Linked DNA regions of Homo sapiens: region 1 is linked to region 2. Evidence: fine-mapped expression QTL. Tissue or cell type: nucleus accumbens. Region 2 holds a variant in brackets; the other region holds the start of a gene. All regions are shown on one strand. Distances are from middle to middle.

Region 1 (5,386 bases), 18 kb after region 2:
TGTTTTAGTTCATTCCAGAAAGCCTTAAGAAAAGCTACGAGGACAGGTACTTTTGTCTGTTTTATTCTGTCCTGTGTTCACAGCTCCTAGTGGAGCACCTGACACTTCGTAAATGTTCATTCATATTTATTGTTGAATGAACTGAGGTATTTTCTAATGGGAAATTGTGAGTTTGGTCATCTTTTCAATTTCATGGTATTTTATGTGAAATAGAATTGTTTATCCACCTTTAAGTTAAGGGAAGTTTTGACCTAGTTTTGCTCTTTAGAGGCAATGAGACCCTTACAAATAGATTTTTTAAAAAATCTAGCTTAATTTAAACTCATAAACTACAATAAGGTATTTAGAAAGTCAACCCTTTCTTCCAGTACGAATACAAATTCTATTTTGTGTCATGGCAGGACTGGAATATTCCTCTGTTGGTTACAAGCTGAGACCTGCCAGCAATAACAAACTGATGGTTCCCGCTACATTATGCCCGAGAAAAGGATTCTGGTAGAAGAGATGTAATTCAAATTAGATATGCTAAGATGAAATCTTCTCAACTCTTTTCATCTGTGGATAAACAAACCAAAAGCGAATGTCTAATTCTGAAAAATACTCCATATTGTTTTCTTCTTAATAACTCAACTACTTAAGCCACTGGTTGAGGAGTTGAAAAAATATAAAATTTCAACCTCTGCTTTTCGCAGTTAGAAAAAAGCTGATTTAATAGCTTAGAACCCCAACAACCGTTGGCCAAATCCCACATGAAGCTGTGCAGTGATTCTTAAGTGGCTTTTTAAAAGACTCTCTCATTTATAATGAAAATATAAACTAAAATCCAGACTGCCATATGTAATCTTTTCCCAGAGAGAAAAGCTTGCTCCAAATTTGTTGACGGCTAAAGAGAAAGCCAGTGAGACTCCCAGCAGTAAAACTGGGCCAGGATGAAAGAGGTAGAACTGAATCCTTTGACCAAAATTCAGATGGAGACCTATGTGTTTTCTGGGATTTCTATGAACCTGAACATAGGGAATATGTACCAGCAAGAGGTAAAACTAATTTGCGATCATGTCAAATCTGGAGCTTCTAATAGTTCAGTCTTGCACTTCACAACTTGCATGTGGAATTCCAGTGAAAAGAAAAGCAATACGCGTTAAGAAATCTCCAATGTGCCATTGAGGATTTAGGGATGAAGTTTCCATGTTCTTCCTGTTTTGATAGTTTTAAAAACCAGTTTTTGTTAACGGTGTATCTGATCCAGCTGTGAACTTATCTGTGAATGTGACTATCTAGAAAATTAGCAAATCAGTTACCATTTATCTTAGGTAATGCTGTTTCGTGTAGTAAATGATCAGTATAAACTATTTTTGTTCAATATTACAGTGAATATAAATGTTATATATAATCAATATAACATATAAGTACTAAAACCTTTTCCTTTACATGCCTTCTTTCTTTTTTCCACTGAGTACTTGAAAAAACAACTCTTGCACATCTTCTAGGATTCAGCCCCATGAACAGGAAATGTGATTTAACAGCACTTAAGCTTCTGAGAGTTAAATGAATCTGGCTATTGATTGCTTACCAGCATTAGGTGGGTTATCAGAAATGTATGCTGTTAATTTGGCTGGCAATGGGATTGACAGTATAACAGCACTACCACCGAAAGCAGCTTTGGTTTTAATCTCTAGAACTTTTGTACCAAAGCAGCTTGGATCTGCCAGGGATTTGTGTTTTAAAGGGATTATGTTAAAGATTATTAAAGTTGAACCCTCAAGGGACAAGGCTGGATATTCATGCTAGAAATGCAACTCCGGATCTCTACCGGCCAAGTCACTTCTGAATGTTTGAGGATTCCTGTCACACTCTAAGTTGCTATGAAAGTGTAGACTGGCTAAAGAAAAATCTTCCTTAGGAAAAGGCTGATTGGGAGTTGGCAAGGCAACTATAAACAGGACCCAGCCTTTCCCATTTTAGAACATTCAACGAGTCTAAGAGCTGGAAATGGAACGGCAGAATCATCTGAATACCTAAAAGTTAAGAAGATAGCAAAAGTGCACTTCATTAATTAAAGAAGATAAAATCAAGAAACAGAGTTGGGGGATGGAGCTAGCAAAGAGCTAAAGAGGCCTTCATTCTGTGGTCAGTGGAAGCAGTGTCAGATGGGTGAGATGGCCTGAGGCGGCCTCACGGGGCTGAGGGCGTTGAACAGGTCCAGGCAGTCCTCCAACCCTGAGCTGGACCAAAGGGACTGGCTGCACAGGCTGAATAAGAGGCACTGCCCACAAATCAATTAAAATATTTCATAATTAAGAAAAAAGCATTTCTAAAGCACAGTGCCCCAGGAAAGGAATTTGGAATAAGCCCAATAATAAAACAAACTGGACCTCTATTTGAGCTACTATCCTATGTGGAAGTGCTGGCTGTGTCATGAGCTCCTTCCTCAAGAGAAAACCTAAGACCTATGCAGGGCTCTTCCTAGACTGCCAGTAGGATGACACATTCAGGTGACATGAATCACAGAGGAGGGAGGTACTACCAACCCCCCTCCCAACATGACACATTTACATATTCAAAAGATGACAAAAAATCAAGCTCCGAGTGCTTGCAATTCATTTGGAAGAGATAAGGCTAGGACATAGCCGAACAATACTTCAAAATACTTATTAAGCAATAAATAACCAGCTGCAGTTGAACGCTCTCTAGATTCCACAGTCTAGTTTAATCCTATTTCAGCCATTTAGATTCCTGCATAAGAGCTCTGGCGCGTAAAATTCCAAGTGGGGTAAGACACAAAAATTTCCAAATATATGCCTTGATAATACTTTCCTGAAATGGAAATGTACTTACTACTCTTATTGATTAAAAGAGCAGATTGAGAGCAGTCTAAATATCCATTATTGGGTCTTCTCATATAAATATGATGTATTCCTGTTTTGTTTGTTTGTTTGTTTGGGTTTTTTTTTTTTTTTTTTTTTTTTTTTTGACTAGAGAATGAGGAAGCTCACTATGGACTGATATGGAAGGAACTATGTATCATTCAGTGCTCAAACACAAAAGTAGAAACCTCTCTATATATCTCAAGCAGAGTAGGATGGAACACAGGAAATTGGTTAAAAACTACTGGAAGGACTGAGGAGCAAAAAAAGAAGGGGCTCTTACCCAAAGAGGCTGGGAAGCTGCCACTGGCCCTTGGCTGAATCCTGTCAGGGATACTCAGTGTTGATCTTGCTGAAACTATCCCCGGATTGCTGGAGCCCAGAGCACAGGCAGTCCAGGCCAGCTGGGGAAAATGGCTAATCTCCTCCTCCCACACTGGAACCTAGCACCAGCGCCTCCCATGAAACCAGCTGGATGAGTGAGTCTGGGAAAGAGGATGGAGGATTATCCAGAAGGGTGGACTTGGACTTAAGAGTCAAGAGACACAATCCAGCACATCCACCCTTTTGCTACTCAGCATCCACACATTCCATTGTACGCACCCTACAGCAACATCACACTTCTTCCTCACAGAATGCAATTTTATTCCTCACACAGATGAACACAAGTTCACTCTCTCCCTAAAACAGATAATTCAGAGTAAAACCCTGTAAGATAGTGGCCTCAGCCACTGTATTCATCCCAGGGTGATGTTAAATTTTTTCCTTTCAGACACCATTGCACCTTTTATAATGGATGTTCTACAACCTAAAGGCTAAGTTGTAAAATTAACCACCAACACTCAGTGTTATGCAGAGTAAACAAAGAAGAAAATGTGCATAGCTGCTACGGGTTTTGTTTTGGTGACTGGTAACAAAACTAGTTGACTGATGATGATAATAGTTAAATAATAATTGAGAATGAACTTCTTCCAACGTCCATTCCATCTTCCTTTTACCTTCAGCCAGCAACTGAAGTTAGTTGTCTGGGGTTCTTTTCTTGGCAAGATTATTGAAACCTTCATTTTTGAAGGGTCTAAGTCTTTAGCTGTCCTGCAGGTTGCAATATTATTCCAGAAACTTTTACTCTTGGACATGGAAGTGCTAAGAGGCACCCAGGAGAATTTCCAGGGCTTCAGACATAGTCCTCTCTGCCACCATTGTGTGTCACGGCAACCCAATTACTCCCTGGTAATAATTCTGTTCAGTCACCCCAGCCAGAAAAGTAACCCTCTTCTTTGCCTGTCCATTTAGTGGCAGAAGAAACTTGAAATGGGCAGACAGAAGTATCGAATTCCAGTTCAGTGGAACGTTATTGTTTCCCCTAGAGGAAGCGTTCTCTCCTAGGAATCAAGACCTTTAAACCAGCTGATCTATGTTTTGTAGAAGGAGGGCAAATATTCTGTGAGTGATATTCAGGATGTGATAGTGAGAGTAGCCACTCTCATTTTTACCCCTTGACTCCCAGGTCTGTGTATCCTGACTATGAGAGACATAGCATCACTCATTTGCTGATTCAAAGCATAATCTACGTGCAGTAAGAAAGCCACCTAGACTGCAGGCAGTTATCTTCCAGATGGTACCATTTTTGAAACTTCAGTTATCTATTTCTAAATTTTGTAATGATAACTACCTTTGGGTGCTGGAGTACATGGTAATCCAATAAGTCCCATGGGCATGATACCAATGCTGTACTACTTTTGCTGTAAAATTAGTTCTTTGGTCACAAGCAAAGAACTTCTTTGGTCATAATCATCATGCTATTAAATAAGGCTCTGTGTTAAGTTCACAGATGGTGGTACTGATAAACCCACTGCAGGCAGTGAATGCACAGCATATTTAGAAATAGTGTCCCAGCCTGGGCAACATAGCGAGACCCTGTCTGAACAAAAAAATTTTTTTTAAAAAAGAGCTGGGCATGGTGGTGAGTGCCTGTAGTCCTAGCTACTTGGGAGGCTGTGGCAGGAGGATCACTTGAGCCCAGGAGTTCAAGGTTATAGTGAGCTATGATTGCACCACTGCACTCCAGCCTGGGTGACAGAGTGAGACCCTGTCTCTATTTAAAAAGAAAGAAAGAAAAAATAAATAGTGTCTATTCTAGAGGACAAAATCATGTCCTTCATAATAGAAGTTCCATGCAATAATCTGATGGCTGACTGGTCCCCCTGGGGAATGACTCCACATCAGAGACTCAGAGATGGTAGAGCCCCTGTCAGCAAGTTAGTCATTTATCAGTGACAGGAGCCAGACCAGTTTGATGAGGGGAAGTCCACATTGTTGAACTCATGTCTGGCTTCTCTCCCTGCCACAATGGCCATGCTCTTCATGAGCCTATTAAGCAAGCCTCGGGGTTGCTGGAAATGGACTGACTGACATCCACAGAACAGGCTATCCTGTCAGTGGACTGCTGAGGGCCTCATCAGTGGATGCCCTCTAATGAGAATTCATATGTGATAGTGCCCATAGGGAAAGGTCCATCTGCA
Region 2 (5,386 bases):
CTAGAAGCTCCTTTTCTCATTCTATTCAATAACCATTTGCTACACCAGAGGTGTACAGTGGGAGACCTCAAGAATCGTTTCCCTGAGTGCTGTTGAAGCAACTCCCAGCCTTGATCTCTGCTGTTTTTTCATTCTTTCGAAAGTGACTTATTGCATTCTTTGTTAGGAAGTGTCTGCTAACAAGCTTTGGCTTGTTTTTTATTCTCGTTCCCAAGTACCTTTTCAATATATTTTTATTTGAATGCTATTTACGTTATTTCTACTTATAGTTAGTGTCTGAAAGCAAACTAAAAGATAAGATTTAGTAAATGTGGAATGGCATAAAAGTAGTGAAAAGAACTTACATGTAAATCAGAAACCACAACAAGCAGATTCTCTTGAGGGTATGCATCTTTCTATACTGGAAAGCAGAAACAATAAACCAATCCTACATATTCTGCCTGCCAAACTTGCAGCTCCCATGTGGCTCTTTTCTCTTTCCTGGTGAGTAGCACCACCTTTGCAAATCTGCCCATGTCAGAAGCCTGAAATGGGGAGGATTTGTTGGGGATGGGTAGAGAAAGTCTCACTTAACCTTTATATCGGATTAATCACTGATTTTATTGGTTCCATCTTACTACCCTCTTCTCCTTCCCCTTCTCCCCATCCCTCCCATGAGCCCACATCCTCTCACCTGATTTGGTAGTCTCCTAATTTGCCTCCTTGTACCAGTATGACTCCCTTCCAAATTAGCCTTCTCCTTAGACATTAAGTCATTTTTCTACAATGCAAACATAAGCATGTCACTACCCTACTTAAAACCCTCTAGGATATATCCAGAATAGGCAAGTCTATAGAGACAGAAAGCAGATTAATGGTTGCCAGGGGCTGATGGGGAGAGGGGGAGTGGGAAGTGATTACTGATGTATATGGGTTTCCTTTGGGGTGGTGAAAATATTCTGCAACAAGATAGTGTGAATATACTAAATGCTACCGAATCATACGCTTTAAAATGGTTAAAGTGGTAATTTTATGTTAAGTGTATTTTACCACAGTTGCTTTTAAAGCCCGATAGGATAAGGTCCACTCATCCCAGCATGTCACTTGGGGCATCACATGGTCCCACTAGCGTTTGCCTGTTCATCTGTCTCTTCTGTTTCCCTCTATTCCTGCATGAATGGGACGACATACAGACTGCTGCATGCGCCCGCAGCTTCACGGCCCCTGCATTTCCACACAGAATTTCCTTTGTCTGCGGTGATCCCTCTGCTGCACGTGCCCACAGTTTCATGCCCCTGCATTTCCATGCCTCCTGCATTTCCACGCCTCCTGCATTTCCACACACAGTTTCCTCTGTCTGCGGTGATCCCTCCACCCCCACCCCACCCACCCACCACTCTCCGTCCAGTGATCTCCTTCAAGACCCCCAAGAAGCTTCCCCTGACACATCTACATCAACAAGCCCACTGTGAACTTCCCTCTCTTTTCTGTCATCTAAACAGGCACAACTGGGAAACCTTTACTGGCAGGTCTTTGTTTCTAGTTCCAGGGAGAATTATATTGTTTTCTAAAAAATAAAGTGGAATGAAGCTTTAAAGTGTTTGTATAACCCTGTTGAAATTCATGACACATTTGTGACCCCCTGGAACATCTGGAACACATGAAGTTAGAGGCTGCAGCTCTAGTGTGGAGGCACCCAAAATAGACAGTTCTATTCAGGGAGCCCTGAGATTAATCTTGTCACATTTAAATACGTAATTACAGCCCTGACACATTTTGTTACTCACCTCTAAAAGCTGCCAAGTGGTCTGTTATCTTTGATTTGTGAATGGTGAGTGGCTTGATTATAAACAAGAGTGGTTTATTTTTCCACACTCAAAAATATATTTATTTTTGAAGTTAATATCAGTAAAATGCTGTATGTGAATCTGCTTAAGAATATGCTTTGTTTGGGAATTTTGTGGCATGTGAAACAACTTTGTCCCTTAACAAGCTTTCTCTTCCCGCAATATTAATGACACAATTTACAATGCCATTAGGGTCATTACACATGGCAGCTCAGAAATTGGACCAGGGTCAGGTAGGTCACTGAGAGGAAGAGTAAGAACACCTGACCCCTTCAGC[G/A]CTCCTTCACCACTTGATAATTATGGACAGGGAAGGTGTGTGTGAGTGCGCATGTGCGTGAGTAAATACCAGGAGAGCGGATACCCAGGAAGTGAGGTCATGAGTAGGTATTAAACAAATTTCTACTTGTATTCATGAGTAGGTGTTAATCAAATTACCTTGATGTAAACAGAGAATTCCCTGGTTTGCCACAGAGTAGAAAAAAATTCTCAACAGTGGTTTTCAACAAGCAGTTGGAACAACAGCATCAGCATTGCTTTGGAATTGTTAGATATGCAAATTCTTAGGCCCTGCCCTGGACCTTCCGAATTGGAAAGTCTGGAGGTGATGCCTCACGATCTCTTTTAATGAGCTCAGGTATTTTTATGCACGTTCAAATTTGAGAGTCATTGTTTTGTTTTTTCGTTTGTTTTTGAGGTGGAGTCTCACTCTGTCGCCCAGGCTGGAGTGCAGTGGTGCCATCTTAGCTCACTGCAACCTCTGCCTCCCAGGTTCAAGTGATTCTCCTGCTTCAGCCTCCCCAGTAGTTGGGATTACAGGCGTGCATCACCATGCCTGGCTAATTTTTTTTTTTTTAATTTTTAGTAGAGGCAGGGTTTCGCCATGTTGGCCAGGCTCTTTCAAACTCCTGACCTCAAATGATCCGCCCACCTCAGCCTCCCAAAGTGTTGGGATTACAGGCATGAGCCACTGCACCCAGCCAAGAACCATTGTTTTAAACAACCTTTTTTAAACCAAGGTTTTTTATGAAAATGTAGGAACACCATGTTCTAGGGTAGTTTAGGTTCATATAAGCATATATACATATATATTCATTTATATTTAGAGATGGGATCTCCTTTTGTTGCCCAGGCTGGAGTGCAGTGGCTCAGTCAGCTCACTGTAGCCTCAAACTCCTGCAATCAAGCGATCCTCCTGATCTCAAGCAATCCTCCTGATATAGGCATTTTGATTCTGGATTTTCAATATAGATAAGTGTTGGAAGAATAACGAAAATGACCAATATTTACTGAAGACCATCCCAGGCCGGGCACTGTGCTAAGTATTCCAGGGACATTATTCCACTAACTCCTCACACAACTCACAACTACCCCACGAGGTAATACTTGTTTCCCAATTGTAAAGTAAAGGAACCTGAGGCTCAGTGAGGTTAAGTTCCTTGCCCAAGGTCACACAACGTGCAGTGCCTCTTGCCATGCTCCTGCACTCTGACTTCTGAGCCCAGGCTGTGAAGCACTGTGCTATCCTTTGTTTGTCCTTTGTTAGCTGCAGCACTGGTTCTGGGGGCAGGATGACCTTTAGCTCTTGGGTATTCAATTTATTGGTGTTCCGGACCATTGCTGCCAAACTCATTTCCAGTTGAAGCAGCTGGGTTTTGTCACACATATGACTTTGTTAAGTGTCCTCAGCTGAGCTGAAGCTGCACAGAAATCACTCATCAGATTCCTGCCAGGGCCAAAGATATGGATGAAAATCTGCAGGAAGAAATGTCTAGCCTGGGATTGCGGGGCGGCAAAAGTTTCCCTCTGGAGTCCTATGAAGGGGTTCTTGTCACACATGTTTACTTTCAGTTTGTGATAAAAAGTGGGCATGCTGGGTTTCCAGTTGCAAGCTTCTACACAAATGGTAGATGGGTTTCACAGTCATTGCAGTGAGGCACAAATGACCATTGATCAACTGCAGCAAAACACAAAAGTTTCACATTTGCATGTGAAAGAGTTAAGTCTGGTCCCACATCTGCAAATGGGATCTGCCTCCCTCACTGTAATATGTGAAATACAAAAATACAGAAAATTATGTTTATATCTGCAATAATTTTTTTCATCAATAAACCTCAGAGGGCTATTGAGAGGTGAATAAAAATGTTCCGTGACTAAGCTGCAAATTTCAGTTCAAAGATAAGGAATGATTGAGTAGAGGGTTTGATTAAAAACACCACACCGGTGTTTGCATCAGAAGTCAGGGTTCTAGCTAGTTATCTCACTTAACAATTGTGTGACTTGGACAAGCCACTGAATAATTCCAAATAGCTCAGTCATCTCAATGCTCATGTGAATGGTGCTCCCTGTAGTTGTTCAGTGCACAGCTTGTATAGCTGCGAGCTGCAAGGTAAATATCATCTAATAGTGTTAATCCTACTTACTGCACGTCAAGGTTGTAAGATGGAGGGTGTTGGGATATAGGGGCAGATTTTCAATATAATAAATGTACTATCCAAATATACTTTTTCTGCCTCAGTTTCCTTCAGATTGAGACAAGTAGAAGAACCCAGCCTCTTAGGAAGGGCCTTGTGAAGGTGACCTTTAATTGCTGATCGTGATTCTGCAGCTAGAAGTTACTGAAAGTGATGTCCTTTTTGCATACGTTTATTCACTTCATGCACTGGTACCTCCTGTCCATTCTCCACATATGGAACGAGACATCTCAGGCCAGGCTGACCTCTCCTGCATGTAACTTCCCAACACTCAGTGTCAGTCCTTGCCCTTTTGGCACTGAATCATGACAGCTTCCCGTTTCCCTCTACTTGGAATATTAGCTGACGCTAGAGGCTTAACGAGTACAGAGACCAGTCCCCTTTTGCTGATTGGATCTCATCATTAGAGATGTTTTAGGAATGCTTTATATCACCCAACAAGGGCTTGGGTTACGTAGGTGTCTGCATTTGTCAGAACTGGTGAGTCTACACTTAAGACTAGCGCATTTCATTGTATCTTAACTTGACTCAAAAGAAGAAAATCTGTAAACACATGTTGAACTCTGATGAATAATGTGATGCTGAAGTGTGTGGGGGAAGTGCACTACATGCCCATTTTACTTTGAGATGTGTCAAAAATATAAGATGGATTAGTGGATGGGTGTGGGATGCATAGAGGCACCCTTATGTGAGAAAGCAAGTAAAGTGAAAGTTCATGACTCAAAATCGTCACTATATGAATTGTTTTCGAATTTGCTATGTTTTAAAATGTTTTATAATCCAATATTAGGAAAAAAAAGAATGTTCTAACTCTATGCTGCTCAAAACATGACTTTCTTTCATTTCAAGTGTCAAGTTTTTTGTTTTGTTTTTTTTTTTTTTGTTTTTTGGTTTTTTTTTTTAAGAGATGGGGTCTCATTCTGTCAACCAGGCTGGAGTGCAGTGCATGTGGCATGATCCTAGCTCACTGCAGACTCCAACTCCTGGGTTCAGGTCATCTTCCTGCCTCAGTCAAGGATGTTTTTGGTTTTTTAATTTTTTTGAGAACCAAAATTTCCCCTTCATTACTGATAAAGGCTAAAATGGAAG

Which allele goes with the higher level. Alleles are on the strand shown, and positions count from the first base shown. SD is a standard deviation of normalised expression in the study named.
For the expression in nucleus accumbens of the gene that starts at base 3,279 in region 1, A is the high allele of the variant in region 2 and G is the other (large effect, 1.0 SD a copy in GTEx).

What was found.
Region 1: it holds the start of CPVL-AS2, and the variant in region 2 is fine-mapped to the expression of CPVL-AS2 in nucleus accumbens (GTEx, PIP 0.93).

What each region holds. Positions count from the first base shown.
Region 1 is chr7:28,977,860-28,983,245 of GRCh38, reverse strand. CPVL-AS2 (CPVL antisense RNA 2) reads right to left here and starts at 3,279. Exons shown (of 5, transcript NR_038965.1): 1 at 3,148-3,279.
Region 2 is chr7:28,996,343-29,001,728 of GRCh38, reverse strand. All of the region lies in intron 12 of CPVL (carboxypeptidase vitellogenic like), which reads left to right. It overlaps CPVL-AS2 (CPVL antisense RNA 2), which reads right to left. Exons shown (of 5, transcript NR_038965.1): 3 at 674-760; 4 at 345-400. Among named protein-coding and RNA genes, the nearest start is that of CPVL-AS2, 19 kb to the right of the region's middle. The variant G/A (reference allele first, on the strand shown) is at 2,104.